Linked DNA regions of Homo sapiens. The protein of the gene in region 1 interacts with the protein of each later gene in a biochemical or structural test. Each region holds a gene or a part of one and is shown on either strand. Other genes may lie near its edges.

What was found.
Region 2: the proteins of PLAT (region 1) and FGA form a complex in vitro, tested with the Homo sapiens proteins (2 studies listed by BioGRID).

Annotation. Positions count from the first base shown.
Region 1 is NC_000008.11:42,203,923-42,212,357, forward strand, and holds the start of PLAT (tissue-type plasminogen activator isoform 1 preproprotein), read right to left. Parts: upstream 3,644-8,435; 5' UTR 3,572-3,643; intron 1-3,571. UniProt on the Homo sapiens protein: Converts the abundant, but inactive, zymogen plasminogen to plasmin by hydrolyzing a single Arg-Val bond in plasminogen.
Region 2 is NC_000004.12:154,587,735-154,595,296, forward strand, and holds the start of FGA (fibrinogen alpha chain isoform alpha precursor), read right to left. Parts: upstream 3,009-7,562; 5' UTR 2,954-3,008; coding exon 2,900-2,953; intron 1,829-2,899; coding exon 1,703-1,828; intron 1,243-1,702; coding exon 1,059-1,242; intron 1-1,058. UniProt on the Homo sapiens protein: Cleaved by the protease thrombin to yield monomers which, together with fibrinogen beta (FGB) and fibrinogen gamma (FGG), polymerize to form an insoluble fibrin matrix. Fibrin has a major function in hemostasis as one of the primary components of blood clots.

The DNA of each region.
Region 1 (8,435 bases):
CTGCTGCACTCCAGCCTGGGTGATGGAGTCAGACCTTGTCTCTAAATTATATATATATATATATATATATACACACACACACACACACACACACACACACACACACATACAAACACATATTGCTAAGAGAATGTGCTGTCTTTTTATGTAAGTAGAAAACTGAGCCACTATCGGAAGACCATGTGGCTTGACTTAGGGTTGGAGCAGGGTGGATGAGCTTTAAATTTATTTCTAGCTCTAATTTTCTTTGAGTCTAAATCATCCTCACTCTTTTACCTGGTTTGATGTGAGACCCACCATATGGTTTTGTGAGCTGCTTGACTAGGACGAGGTTTATAGCCTGACACTATAGACAGACATTTTCTCCCGTATATACAAAAGAAATGGCCCCAAGAAGGAATGAGCAGAATGCACTGGTCCCTTATTGTCCGTCCCAACAATCTCATCAAAGCAGAAGCGAAAATCACTCAGAGAAAGTAAAAAATTTATTCTGAGACTGCAGGTGCATAATGCCAAATAATCAAAGAAAAACCTGTCTGGGCATGGTGGCTCACGCCTGTAATCCCAATACTTTGCGAGGCCAAGGCGGGCAGATCACTTGAGGTCAGGTGTTCAAGACCAGCCTGGCCAACATGGTGAAAACTTAGCTGGGTGTGGTGGCGGGCGCCTGTAATCCAAGCTATTTGGGAGGCTGAGGCAGGAAAATCGCTTGAACCTGGGAGGTGGAGGTTGCAGTGAGCCAAGATTGTGCCACTGCACCCCAGCCTGGTGAAAAAGCGAGACTCCATCTTAAAAAAAAAAAAAAAGAAAAGAAAAATTGGCCGGGCATGGTGGCTCATGCCTGTAATCCCAGCACTTTGGAGGAGGAGGGCAGATCACGAGGTCAGGAGTTCGAGACCAGCCTGATCAACATGGTGAAACCCTGTCTCTACTAAAAATATAAAAATTAGCCGGGCGTGGTGGCTTCAAGTGACACTACCAAGGTATGAAAGGAAAATAAATCTCAAGACCCCCAAATCACTAAGCCAAAGGGAAAAGCCAAGCTGGGAACTGCATGAGGCAAACCTGCCTCCCATTTTATTCCTACATAAGACGGCTACAAAGATAAAAGGCTACATACCTCTCTCACAATTTACCCACAAGGAAACTCCTTGTGGACTTCAAGATCTTTACCCTAAAACAGTTCTGCTGAACTTCACCTTGGCAATGCAAATGGGTACAGGACAAAGGACAGAACTCAAAGTCATCCCTCTGCTCACCTGAGACAAACGCATATCTGATTGCTTCCTCTGCCCTATTGTTTTTGTAAAAATGAAGATTCAGGCCAGGCATGTTGGCTCATGCCTGTAATCCCAGCACTTCGGGGGGCCGAGGTGGGTGGATCACCTGAGGTCACGAGTTCAAGACCAGTCTGGCCAACATGGTGAAACCCTGTCTCTACTAAAAATACAAAAATTAACCAGGTGTGGTGGCAGGCGCCTGTAATCCCAGTTACTCAGAAGGCTGAGGCAGGAGAATCACTTGAACCTGGGAGGTGGAGGTTGCAGTAGCCGGGATCATGCCATTGCACTCTAGCCTGGGCAAAAAGAGTGAAACTCCGTCTCAAAAAAAAAAGTAGATTCACTGAGCCAACTAAGGCATAAGTGACTCTTCCTCTGCCCCCCTCTCATATGTAAATTGTGTATTCAGTGAAAGGCTGACAAAGACTCAGAAGAATGAAGCCTTCTCTTATCTACCTATGACCTGGAAGCCCCTACTTCGAGTTGTCCTGCCTTTCCAGACCGAACCGGTGCACATCTTACATACATTGATTAATGTCTCATGTCTCCCTGAAATGTATGAAACCAAGCCATACCTTGGCCACCTTGGACATATGTCCTCAGGATCTCCAGAGGCCGTGTCACATGTGTGTTCTTAACATTGGCAAAATAAACTTTCTAAATTGACAGACCTGTCTCAGATACTTTTGGGTTCACAAAGGAGTGCCTGACTGTTTTTTGGAATCCTTTGAAATCTACTGGCCGCTGGCTCTGCTCAGCAACGTCAGGCCCTGGGGGAAATCAAAGCCTCAGTGAACTCAAAAACCAACAAAGGGGAACTGCTATTCCCAGCTATTCCCTGGCTGCCTGGACTGTCCCAGGCCTGTGATGAAGCAGGGGGAGCCGCAGACACTGGGAGAATCCGACGCGAGTCATTGTGAAATAAACCAAGCTGGTCTTGGGGAGTCGGGCAGAGAAGGAGCATTTTGGAGACAAGGGCAGCTTTCATTTGCTCCTGAGATTTTGATCTGGGGCTTTATCATTTGATCCAGAGCTTGGAGGCTTGCATCTTTGAGAACATTTTAGGTGGAATAAATGGGTGGGCAGGATGGAGCTATTCATATCTCAATACTCACAGTGTCCCTGCCAGTGCTGGAGTCCGACTCTGCCTGCACAGGAAGCACGCACCCAGCAGCTCATGCTGACCGTCATGGATTGAGTCTAGATCCCAGAATGAGCGTTCTTGCCACAGCAAGTACTGCTAGGAAGTCACCTTTGAGGGGACTCCACCTGACAATGGTATTTGCAAGACCCCTTCCCGGGACTGCAATGCACACGCATACACACACACACGACATTTTTTCTGTCATCAAGCAGCTACAGGAGACCACCATATTATTCCCAATTGGCCACCAAACACATCCTTGTTACCACACTTCTTTGAGCTTGAGTTGTCATTAGTTACCTGGGACCTCGGCGTGTTTTCGTCTTCCCTCCCTCCCTTCCTCTCTCCCTCCCTGTGAGGTTAAGAAAATAAAGATAATAACAGTGAAAATCTGGAGAACCCCACATGCTTCCTGCAGAGTGCTTTAGGAATAAAAGACATTAATGTCAGTTTTTTCCCCTGTAATTAAAATGTCCTTTAAGGAGGACTGCACACTTGACTGATGCACCCTGGGCAAAAAGCCAGAGGGCCAAACTGACCTGTGGAGACTTGTAGGGGTGGCACCTAGGGAGATCAGAGGCATTTCTCTATCCCACGGGGTAATGTGGGGTGTGAAAGCCACCTGCTTCTCTCTCCCAGCACCTAGCAAATAGTGCTCTGGAAGTAAGTCCCCCTCTGCCCCATCCACAGCCTCAGTTCCTTTCTGGGGGTTCATCGGGGGAGGGAGGAAACTAGGGGACCCAGCGGGCCCTCCCAGCTGTCACAGGCACGTGTCCCAAGGCAGCCGATTTTGCTTTTATTGCTTGCTCGTCTTGAGGTACTCCCATAGGCTATTTGGGGCTTTTCTGTATCGTTCTTTTCACTTTCCCCTTTACTCTGTCAGCAGAGGCTTCTCCAATGAATGCAACCTCCCTAGTCTCCCTTTCCCCGACTGCCTCTCCCCTCCAAAACACTCCAGCCTATCCCAATCACATGCAAATGCAAACAGACATCTCCCCTCTGGAGTGGATTCTAGCGGATCCTCTAGTTGCCTGAATTACAAAGTTGGTCCCTTGGTTAAAGCATTCCTTCACTGGCTCAGCTTGCTGGAAAGACTTTTAAGAGAAAGAAGAGGAGACAGACCCCAAGGTACAGAAACCCGACCTACCACGGCTTGCTCCTTCCCTTTCCTCGCAGAGGTTTTCTCTCCAGCCCTGGACTCCTGTAGGATCTCAGCTCTGAGCTCCCCACAGCTCCGGCCTCCTTTAAGTTTCCAGGCAGGGGGTGGGGTCGGTGGCCCCGGCTGGGCGGGTTTCTGTGTGGCGGGAGGATGCTCAGTGGACAGGGCCATGAGGGAGCTGAGGCAGGCCTGTTTTTATAAAGCAGGGGGAGGAAGTTCACGGTGGAAGCAGCACAGCCCATCCTGGCTTCGGGCCAGGCTGATTATTCACAGCCGTGATGTCATTGAATCGCAGGAATTTGGAAGTGGGATGGGACCTTAAGAATCATCTTCCTTTAGAGTCCTAGTGTCCCAGGCTTAAAAGGGACTTTCAGGACCCTGTGATGACAAGAAGTGTTTATAATTCTAAAGGCAGCAGGTTGGGGCTGGGAGTGGGGTGTCTTCTGGAATCTGTGGCTGTAGCTCTGGCCTCTCAGGACATGAGAGGTTAAAAGGACTGGAGGATGCACAAGGATTGGAACACTTTGTGTGGTGGCGGGAGCTCAGGGGGGTAGCCACTGAGAAGGCAGGACCAGCCTTGGGCTCACCTGCGGTAGGAGGTGCCCCCATGGGGGTTTGCTCCGGTAGGCATCTTTGGCCCTGTTCTGTAATTTTAGGGAGAATCTTTCTCTTCTTTGTAAAGTGCAGGGCTGCAGTAGGTGGCCTCCGGGGACTTTCCGGCTCCAGCATCCCCTTGAGTGGGCCCAGGGAATATACACAGGGCCTTGGGGCCAACATGCCTGAAATTCGATCAAAGCCATCAGCCCTTAAGCCCACCGAAGCCTTTCAGTATTTGCTTGTAAAATGCCCCTGGAAATAGACAAGCCATTTCCCTTGCTGACACCTTTTCAGATGACTGAGAAATAAAAGCCCTGTCGTGTAGGGGAAAGTCTTAGGTTTAAATCCGGCTGTGCCAGTAACTGGGATATGACCTCAATCAAGATTTTCAACTATGCTGAGCTCTGGCTTTTGCATCTGCAGGTCACGTGAGGATCAGAGAGAAGCCACGCATGTCAGGGCCCTGGCACATCACAGGGCTCAGCAGGAGCATCTATCATCATTGGTTCATGTCTGGCTGAGACCAGACCTTGTAAAAATGAGAGAGAGGTGAAAGAAAGAACGCAGGGAGGGAAGAGAAGTTTGGCAGAGGAAATTGTGGGATGACCGACTATTCAGGAGAGGCCAGATTTCATACATTCTGATCCTAAATATACTCATATTTGTCAAACCATGAGTGCTGAGTTTGAAGTTGAAAGGCACCTAACTGCTTTTCACATTGCTTTCAAACTGTTTTTCACATTTTTATGAAGCTGCAGCCCTGCTGATGGTCATTGTAGAAAAGGGGCACTGGGGTGGGTTGCCTGCTGAGCACGGGAGGTAGACCTCCCATGAGCAGCAGCAGCTGTGGGCCTGTCTGGTGGGCATGGGGCTGCTTTCCTGCAATGTGGTCTAAGATGGTGAGGATGGAGGCTTTTTTGGGGGGTGGGGCATTGCCGTTCAGCAGGGAGTGCTGGTCATGAGGACTCTCATTTGAACTCTTGAGAGGATGGTTTTCCACTGAATGGTTGCACTTAAATCCTGGATCCTGAACCTCTATGGAAAACAATATGGAGATTTCCCAAACTAAAAATAGAACATCCATTTGACCCGGCAATCCCACTACTGAGTATCTATTCAAAGAAAAAGAAATCATTACATCAAAAAGACACCTGCACTCACACGTTTATCACACACAATTCACAACAGCACAATTCACAATAGCAAAGGCACAGAATTAACCTAAGTGTCCATCAATGGAGGACTGGATAAAGAAAATGCACATATACACCGAGGAATACGACAAAGCCGTAAAAAACAATGAAGTCTGTCTTTTGGAGCAACATGGATGAAACTGGAGACCATTATCCTAACTGAAATAACTCAGAAACAGAAAGTGAACAACCACATGCACTCACTTATAAATAGGGGCTAAACAACGGGAGACTGAGAGGAGAGGGTTTGCAGATCATTAGCAGGGGCCCTGAGCTTTGCTGAAATATACCCGAATGATTAAGACCCAGCAATATCCTGCAGCCCTAGAAACTGGGGCCTCTGTGTTCCTTCTGAATTGAGATTGGTTTCCCTCGGACAGATTCTGGGGAAGCCTGAGAATGCAGAATTAGGCATGGGCAGGCTGATAAGGTGACAATGGGAGCCTTGATTTTAGTCAAGGGATCACTTCGAGGAAAAGAAAAGAACAGAAAAAAAGGAAAAAAATCTTGGTGACCTCACATCCTGTGAACATTTCATCAAAGCCCTTCATTTTCAAAAAAGAGAAATAAATCCAGGCCTAGATAACACGGAGACAAAGTGGGCACAGAGAAACTGGACGGGGAATTGCTGCAGGGCTTTTCCCAGCCAGCCTGGCTGTTTCTGCAGTGGGCGCCTCCCCCACAGAATGCATGAGTCATGGAGGTGGCGGGGGCAGAGAACAGGGGCTGCTCCAACCCTTCTCACTGGGGCAGGTGGCAGGATGGGTATTCGAACGAGAGCCATGCTGGGACTCTGCTCAGCTGGGTAAGAAATGATGTGATGTCTCTGGAAACTCAGAGAAAGGAAGAGTGGGCAAGAAACTTGTTTTTTTTTTTTTTATTTTCTTTTTTTTTTTTTTGAGACAGAGTCTTGCTCTGTCGCCCAGGCTAGAGTGCAGTGGTGTGATCTCGGCTCACTGCAACCTCCACCAGGTTCAAGCAATTCTCCTGCCTCAGCCTCCTGAGTAGCTGAGATTACAGGTGCCCGCCACCACGCCCAGCTAATTTTTTTGTATTTTTAGTAGAGACGGGGTTTCACCATGTTGGTCAGGCTGGTCTCAAACCCCCGACCTCGTGATCCACCTGCCTCAGCCTCCCAAAGTGCTGGGATTATAGGTGTGAGCCACCGCGCCCAGCCAAGAAACTTATGACAAGGATGTTTTGGACCAGAAGACGGACATTCTGTGTCTAAACTAAGATTTAATTTTGGTAGCCATCTGGCTTTGCAGGGGATGGGGTAAATGTCATGATGGATCTAAAATCGGTGTTATTGTCGCACGCCTTGTCTAGGTCTCCATCTAGACTGGGAATCCCCGGCCCTGGGGCCATGGGCTGGTATCTGTCCGTGGCCTGTTAGGAACCAGGCTGCGCAGCAGGAGGTGAGTGGCTGGAGAGCCAGTGAAGCTTCATCTGTGTTTACAGCCGCTCCCCATCACTCGCATTACTGCCTGAGCTGCACCTCCGGTTGGATCAGCAGTGGCACTAGATTCTCATAGGAGTGCAAACCCTATTGTGAACTGTACATGCGAGGGATTGAGGTTGTGCACTCCTTATAAGAATCTAATGCCTGATGATCTGTCGCTGTCTCCCATAACCCCCAGATGGGACCATCTAGTTATAAGAAAACAAGCTCAGGGTTCCCACTGATTCTACATTATGCTGAGTCATACCATTATTTCATTATATAATACAATGTAATAGTAATATAAATAAAGTGCACAATAAATGTAATCCTCTTGAATCATCCCGAAACTATCTCCCCTCCCTCTGTCCGTGGAAAAGCTATCTTTACAAAACTGGTCCCTGGTGCAAAAAAGACTGAGGACCACTGATCCAGACTAGACGCCCATGGTGGTAACAGCACCAGTTGTGTGAATTCCACACAAACAATGAGAAACATCAAAACAGGACAAGCTGAAGGCATGGGAAGGACTCTTACAAATCTTATTCTTGTTAAGAGCTGTTCACCAAACTGTAGGAGGAGGTCTTTATTCTTGCAACTCTTTGGTAAGTTTGAAATTATTTCAAAATATTAAGTTAAAAATTGGATTATTTTCTTGGAGCAGTAATTTTTTGAATATTTAGCCTGCTGACATGCATTTTTTAAATCCCCATACAAGATAATGATAAGTATTCAACATTGTTTTGACTGTCTAAATACTGAAAATAACTTAGATGTCAAAACATAGGGGCCTAGTAGACTAGGACATGTTAGAATACTGCAATATTGTGTAGCCATTGAGATGACTGATAACATAATTATACCGACATACCAAAATAAATCATAAAATTGCCTTGCCCAAAAGAAGAAGAAAATAAATTTGTACATGAGCTGTGATATAAATAATGTAGATCAGGCATGGTGTCTCACACCCATAATCCCAGCCCTTTGGGAGACCGAGGCAGGCAAATCACTTGAGATCAGGAGTTCGAGACCAGCCTGGCCAACATGGTGAAACCCCATCTCTACTAAAAACACAAAAATTAGTCAGGCATGGTGGCGGGCACCTGTAATCCCCGCTACTCGGGAAGCTGAGGCAAGAGAATCACTTGAACCTGGGAGGTGGAGGTTGCAGTGAGCCAAGATCGTGCAACAAGAGTGAGACTCCATCTCAAAAAATAATAATAATATAAACACTACATAGATGTATGGATAGAGATTAGAAGATAAAACTAGGTGTTGGAGTACTGTCATTATTGGTCAATTGTTTTTCAGTTCCTTTAGTGATGCTTCTAAATGACTTTCATAAAAGTAGATGTACTGGCTCCACACTGGGTGTGCCCAGCCCAACACTCTCTCTCTGGCACTGGAAGGACCTGGTTGTTCATGGAAGCGTGTCAGAAGAATAGGAATTTTCCTTAATAACTTATGATGGAGTATCCATGAGTTTATTCAAGTTATTTTTGAACACATCTAATTTTCAATCAATTCCTTTGTGGAGTGAGTTGAGTTTCTCAGGTTGGTTTGCTGATTCTCCGACACAGAACTTTCTTTCTCTGCTCCTAAATCTACCTCTTTTGAG
Region 2 (7,562 bases), on another chromosome or scaffold:
AGGAAGGAAGGAGAAAGAAAGAAAGAAAGAAAGAAAGAAAGAAAGAAAGAAAGAAAGAAAGAAAGAAAGAGAAAAAAGAAAGAAAGAAACTAGCTTGTAAATATGCCTAATTTTATTTTGGTTACAGTTTAATCTGTGAGTTCAAAACCTATGGGGCATTTGACTTTTGGATAATGTTATGCCCTGCAGCCTTCCATGAATGCCAGTTAAGATGTCCTAATAGCAATTAGTAATCCCAAAGAAATATAGAAGAAGAACTTTCTTTGGAATTTTAAAGGTGTAATTTGGAGTTAAAATAGTTGGTTTGATTGCATTTCAATTATTTTATAACATCCTTAATCAAGGGACTTGAACATATTGGATTTTCTTACTGATGAGCTTTTCTTTTTAATCTATAGATTTGAAATGGTTCCTAAGCTGTTTTGGGTCAACAGGATCACTCACTTGCCAGCTAGTGTTGCATCACTGATTTTAAATGTCAAGTGTTTGTGAAGGTGTAAAAAGGCAAAGCAAAACTTGAGAAACTGAGGACTCCCTAGACTCGCTGTCCATGCCCAGAGTGAATGCAATGTTTCCTAACCCTAATGAGTAGACTGTGAGAATGACGTAGCTTGACCCTATATTTTAAATTTAAAAATCTACCTAATCAGCTCAGTGGAGTCTGGGAGTTGAATTCCCAGCTCTGTGTCTTTGAACAAGTTCCTTGACCTCTCAGTTTTCACCTTTACAAAGCAGAAACAAAAATATCAACTCAAAGAGTCTGACCCATCCTACTTTCAGTATATACTGTTGAAAAGAACACATTTAAATTCTTGTTTTTAATCCAAAATTCTGACTTATTTTGTGACCTTAAACAATCTCAGTTAACATCTTTTACTTTGAAAAAATAACGAAAACAAAAGCTCCCTCTTAAAATTTTCAGGGATATTATGAAGGTATGTGTTTCTACACTAAGTACTTTGGGATGAAATTGTCATAGATATAAGCGGATATCATATTTATTTAGGATTTTTGTTGTTTCTGTTATAAAGTCAAAGCAGTAAATATGTAATACTTACTATTGGCTGAGGAAAAATCGCCTCTCAAAATTTCCATTATATTAGTGGTCAACGAATGAGAATCCTTATTGTTCTTCTGATATTCAAATAGTGAATTTTTGAGCTTATTTATTCTGTTTGTAAAATCTTGATTGACTTCATCAATCAACCCTTTCATCCTGCAGCCAGAAGGGCATTTGTAGTTCTGAAAGTGAAGGGAGAAAATTACAGTAAGGATCTATCTCTCAGATTCAGAATAATTTTGCATGTTTCCATGCAGCCCCCATTTCTTCCTACCCTATCTCTTCCAGATAAGTTGGCTTAAAAGTAGGTAAGAGGACTAGTTAGAGGTCGCAGAGAAACTCTGGAATGAGGGTCCACTTAGCCATAAATTAGGTGCCAGGAAATTGAGGCCACAATACTCAGGAGCCTGGTTTTGCCTGAGCATGCAACTGAAATCCTGTCTGTTCACCCACTAATGATCCAGAGTTGGGGAGGTAAATAAACAGTGCTCTTGGGAGTAGGTTCCTTTTCTTTATTTGCTATGTAGGTAACTATTCAATTATTTTCTATTTAAAAAAGTTTCTGGGACCAATCAGGTCAGCCTGTGAGCCCCTCTAGCATCAGAGGGAAGGAATCTCCTGCTTCCCCCGCTGACTGCTTACCCAGTCTTCATCAGAGCAGAAGGGCCAGTCTGAATCTTTGCAGGCAGATTGATGTCTTTCCACAACCCTTGGGCCACGCACGCCTCCTCCTTCAGCTAGAAAGTCACCTTCACCACTATCTGCAGTCTTTAAAGATTCATTCACATACACAAAAGAGAGCAACAGCAATGTTAGCCAGAAGAGGAGACAGTGGCATGCCTACAAGTCCCCAGGAAGAGATGGCACTCTCACAGAGATTAAGGAGAGCAGACACAGGGCTTCGGCAAGCTTCAGGTTTCTTATCTTCAAATGGAAATCCTAGGACCCATTTTATGGAGTTGTTATGAGAATTAAAGGAGACAAGGTGTACAAATTTCTTAACTGTGTGTGACACTTAAATAAGCATTTGATAAATATTAGGAGTTTTAAAGAATCCATCCTAAAAGGAAAATTATTTGAATCTATAAAATCAGTTAAATTTTACCTTTTCATTTTTACTAATGACTGCAGACAGAAAGTTGAAAACTACTGTAGAGCTCTTTCTCCTGTAATTGCTGCTTCAGTAGAAAAACCTAGACTATCTTAACTGAATGTTCCTCTCTCCTTCAAGTTTCTATGTAACCTTTAGAGATGGATTCATAATTTAAAAGAATACCATTACTGCGGAAAAGCGTATTGCCTTACTAACTAATCTCTTCTGATACTGCAAAGATATTTCCAAAGATAATTCGTTTGCTTTTTCTTCTGTCTTGACAAACACAACAATAACCTTTCAGCAAAACTGTACTAACACTAAAAGTTCTGCTTATTATGGACAAGTAGCAAGAAATTAATAACTAAAGAAAACAAATCTTACCATAAAATGTTTTATTCCATTAACTAGCATTATAATGCACCAAGGCTTTATAGGTACAAGGATGGCAAATAATTCTTGCCCTTTTTAAAACAAAACAAAACAAAATGTGGTAAGACTGAATGACAGATGCTAAAGTTTCCCTTGTGAGTTTGTACACTCTCATCCATCTAAGATCTTCCTCTTGGTGTCATATTACCCTGTATTCTTGAGGTGTCAAGCCCACCCAGGAAATTTCCTCCCAGGCCTGGGGTCATAAAGCTAAGAGTGTGTCAGGACATAGAGCAGGTAGACTCTGACCTCCAGGCTCTTTGTGGAATAAACACCAGAGAGAAAGCAAGAAGAAAAAATGAAAAGGGCCATACCCATGCTGTGCCCACCACACTTAGGACCAGGCAGACGATCCTCATGGAAAACATCTTTTCTAAGGGTGGGGCTGGCTCCTGAGGAGCACTCCAGCTGAAAGAAAGGATTGCTGCCACTCCTAGTTCCCATCCTATTTAAATCTGCAAGAGGTTTGGTTAATCATTGGCTTTGTCCTGTGTAGACAGTCAACCCTCCCTCTACGTCCTTTGTTCCTCCTATGCTGTTGGTATCCCAGAAATTCTTGCTCAATTCCCCTCAGCTTGTTTGCTTCCGATAAGCTGTTGCAAAGGTAGCATTTGATTCTCCAGTCAACAATTAGGAGATCTCACATTCCAGGAACAGGGTGGCTTTGAGAATGAAAAGAGGAGCATAGGAGGGTATATCCATATTTCTAAACGTGAAAGAATATAGAAGGTGCTTAGGTAAGCTAGCTGTAGCCCCCAGTAGTAGTGATTTAGCAAACAATATTTCACTTTATGCAGAAATTAGGGTTGGGTGATCTGGCTTATAAAAAAAATAACTTTGGGGATAAGCTGGCCCTGAAGGCTTTCTATAAGTTTATTTAGAACATATTACTTTTCTCTATTTAAAATATTAAGATGACAGCAGCCCCAGGAACAAAACATCTTGGGTTCATAATCCAAGCTGCACCACTTCCCTGCTCTATGTTCTTGGACAAGTTACTTTACCTCTTTATACTTCAGTTTCCTCATTTATAAAATAAGGATGCTGATAAGCTACCCCATGCTTTTATGAAGAATAAATGAGTTAATTCTTGTAAATCTCTCAGAACAGTGACTGTCACATAGGAAATACTCAGTGAATTATGGGAGATCATAAAGTGCCATGAAAAATACCATTTATTTCCTGTTTCTGTGCTAGCAATCTCATTTCTGAGTGTATTTCCAAAGGAAATGAAATCAGGATCTTGAAGAGACACCTGCATTCCCATGTTCATTGTAGCTATATTGACAATAGCCGAGATATGAAAACAACCTGTTTCCACTGATGGATGAGTAGATAAAGAAAATGTGTATATATATATATACACAATGGAGTATTACTCAGCCTTGAAAAAGAAGGAAATTCTGTCATTTGCAGTAACATTGATGAACCTAGAGGGCATTATCCTAAGTGAAATGAGCAGATATAGACAGACAAATACTGCTTAGCTGGTCGTGGTGACAGGCACCTGTAATCCCAGCTACTCAGGAGGCTGAGGCAGGGAGAATCACTTGAACGCGGGAGGTGGAGGAGGTTGCAGTGAGCCGAGATTGCATCATTGCACTCCAGCCTGGGCCACAGAGTGAGACTCCTTCTCAAAAAAAAAAAAAAAAACGGAAAAGAAAGACAAATACTGTATGATCTTTCTTACATGTGAAATCTAAAATAGTCAAACTCACGGAAGAAAAGTGTAGAATGGTGGTGGCCAGGGCCTGAGGCATAGGAGAAATGGGGGAGATGTTGGTTAGAGGGCACAAAGTTTGAGCTATGCAATATAAATAAGTTCTGGAGTCCAATGTGCAGCATGGTGACTATAGTTGATAATATTATGCTGTATATTTGAAATTTGCTAAAAAGGTAGATCTTAAGTCTTCTCACCACACAAAAAGATAACTATATGAGGTGTTTTAAGTGCTAATTAGATTAATAGTGGTAATCATTTCACAATGTTTATGTGTATCAAAACACCAATCAGAGAGAAGTTCCCCTTTAAAGGAAAATAAAAAAACAAACATCCAGCTGTACAACCTAAATTATGCAATTTTTATTTGTCAATTATACTTCAATAAAGGTAAAAAACATCTTCAGCTTACATTTACCAGATGTATTAGGTTGGCGGAAATAGCAAATAAAAATAAGAGTGTCCCAGTTAAATTTGAATTTCAGATAAACAACAAATCTATTTGAGTATAAGTATGTCTCATGTGATATTTGAGACACACTTAAAATTTTTTTGTTGTTCATCTGAAATTCAAACTTTACTGGACATCCTGTACTTTATCTGGCAATCCTACCTTGCCTCAAATTCTGCTTCCTACATGAAGCCAATCCTAATAGAGTAATAGCTAATGTGTATTGAATGTTTACTAAGTCTTGGGTTCTTTGCTAGACATTTTGCAGGGTACCTGATTCAATGTCCAATTAAAAGGAATCTCATGTTCTTTCATACTTCCTTAGACTGTGCACCACTAATGGCATTTATCATTATAGGAGTACCGTCTGTCTCCTCCACTAGATCATAAACTTGAGAATTGAAATGTTTTATTGGTCTTTATATTCTCCCCAAAAGGTGTGGGCCCTCATTGAGCAAGAAAGCATAAGTGGGTTCCAGAGATGCGAAGTTGCCTGGCTGCCTCCCCCAGCACTGCAGACGTGTGAAGCTTTCTATAAATGGATGGAAGCCCTGGTGCAAGGCAGTGCACTGTCTGCTCTATGGAAGACTCCTTGTCTGATCAAGCTCACCCCTGAAGCAGCTTGCTATGATTTTAGAGTTAACTGCAGAGCAAAGAGGAAGCCCCAGAGCCCCATCCAGGTTCCAGAGGGCAATGATTCCATGAAAAGCTGGGTTACACTCACTCACAATGACTGCACTGGCAAAATGTCAGGATTAGATAGGAAGGTGAGGCTTGATCTCTGCACACATTTTCCTATGCCCACAAGAAGTGCCCCTTTGGGAGGTGAACATGGTATATAGCAAAGAAGTTCCCGAGAGTAACCTGGTAGGCCTTAGGTGAGTCGGCTGAACATAATCTGATTGAAGGTAAATTAACAGAAAACAATTTGGTTGAATGCCACCACCCTAGTGCCATGTCAGGGTGTTTCCAAGGATGCCACCTGAGGGCTTTATCCTTGCCTCTCAGAATCAGCACATCTCACACCCTTTCTTACTCCTGGCCTCTGCTCACATGGCATCTACTCAGAGAGGCCTTCTCTGGCCACCTGATCTAAAGAGCTGCCACTCTCGCATGTCATTCCATTGACTCTGCTTGGTTTTTCCACGCAGTACCTTATAACTCCTGGACAATGTGCATTTGGGAAGGTATTTGTTTATTCTGTGTCTTGCCTACACAAAGCTTCCTGAGGCCAAGGCACAAGGACTGGCACAAATGTCAGGCATAGAGCAATTGCTGCTCAGTATCTGCTGGAGAAATGGAAGGCTGTCACCATATGGTGGTGACAATGCATGGTGGGCTTTCCAGCATGTGAGACCTGGATTCCAGCTAAGTGACATGGGCAAACTATTTAAATTCTCTGAGCTATAAATGGGATGATGATATTTGTCTTACAGGATTGCTGTGAAGATTATGTAAAATGGTGTATGTAAAATGTTGGCCATACACAGCAGGAGCTCTAGAAACAGTAGCTTTTATTGTTCCTAGAATATCCCAATGCTCCATGATAAAATGTTCCCTTGTTTTGACTGTAGTACCAGGAGTCCCTAATGAGGCACTTCTGTAGCTCACTGTTTGGCCCCACACTGCAGGCTGCTCACTAGGCTGGGCTCTCTGCCCCATGAACAGGCTGTATTGTAAGCTTTGGAGGAGTAGGTTTTGTTTAGCTGGAAAACCATGCAAATTAATAGGCATGATACGAGTATCATTTTTTAAAAAGCATGTGACAATAAGCGTATCTTTAAATGTGCAAAACTGGAAAAAAGATGGAAGAAATTTTCAGTTGCTTAAATTATAATCTGCCGTGCATTGGCTTTTTCTTTTTGAGATGGAGTCTCACTCTGCCACCCAGGCTGGAGTGCAACAGCGCCATCTCAGCTTACTGCAACCTCTGCCTCCCGGGTTCAAGCGATTTTCCTGCCTCAGCCTCCTGAGTAGCTGGGATTACAGGTGCCCACCACCATGACTGGCTAATTTTTTGTATTTTTAGTAGAGATAGGGTTTCCCCATGTTGACCAGGCTGGTCTTGAACTCCTGACCTGAGGTGCTCCACCCACTTCAGCCTCCCAAAGTGCTGGGATTACAGGCATGAGCTACTGCACCAGGTTTGTCTTTTTCCTATAGATAACTACATCCTATTTACCTTAGCTCTAATGAGAAGGATGTTTGATATATCTATCCTTTTGAAGTTAATGTAATATAAACATTTAAATATAAATGTTAATATAAACATTTGAATGCAGGAATTTACACATTTGTTATGCCATAACTTTTGGCATGACTAGAATAGTTTTTACTAGTTTTAATAGCTTTATTTGTGTGGTATATAATGTATACAGAAAGAGTAGAAATTCTATAGCTATATGTTTCAGTTTTAAACTATATCTACTCATCACAGCTTCCACAGGAAAAGTAAAATATATAACCAGTTATCTATATATTTGCAATTGTATAAATACAACTTAAAAATACAAAACAAAACAACAGTGTTATTTTGAATGGAATATTTGTCTTACCCTGGGCTGACACCAGAAATTAAATGCATTGATTTCTGAGAGCAGCTCACTCATTCACTCATTTGTCTAAATTTAGCAATCATTTATCCTATGTATATTATTTCTCTAGTCCTGCATACTATGTGCTTAAGATAAAAAGGCAAACAATGTATAGTCTTTTACCTTCAAGTTGCTTACAATTGGCAAGCAAGTCAAATACGTTATGCAGCTGAGAATTAAGTTAAACTATGTAAACTTGACATTTTTGTAGG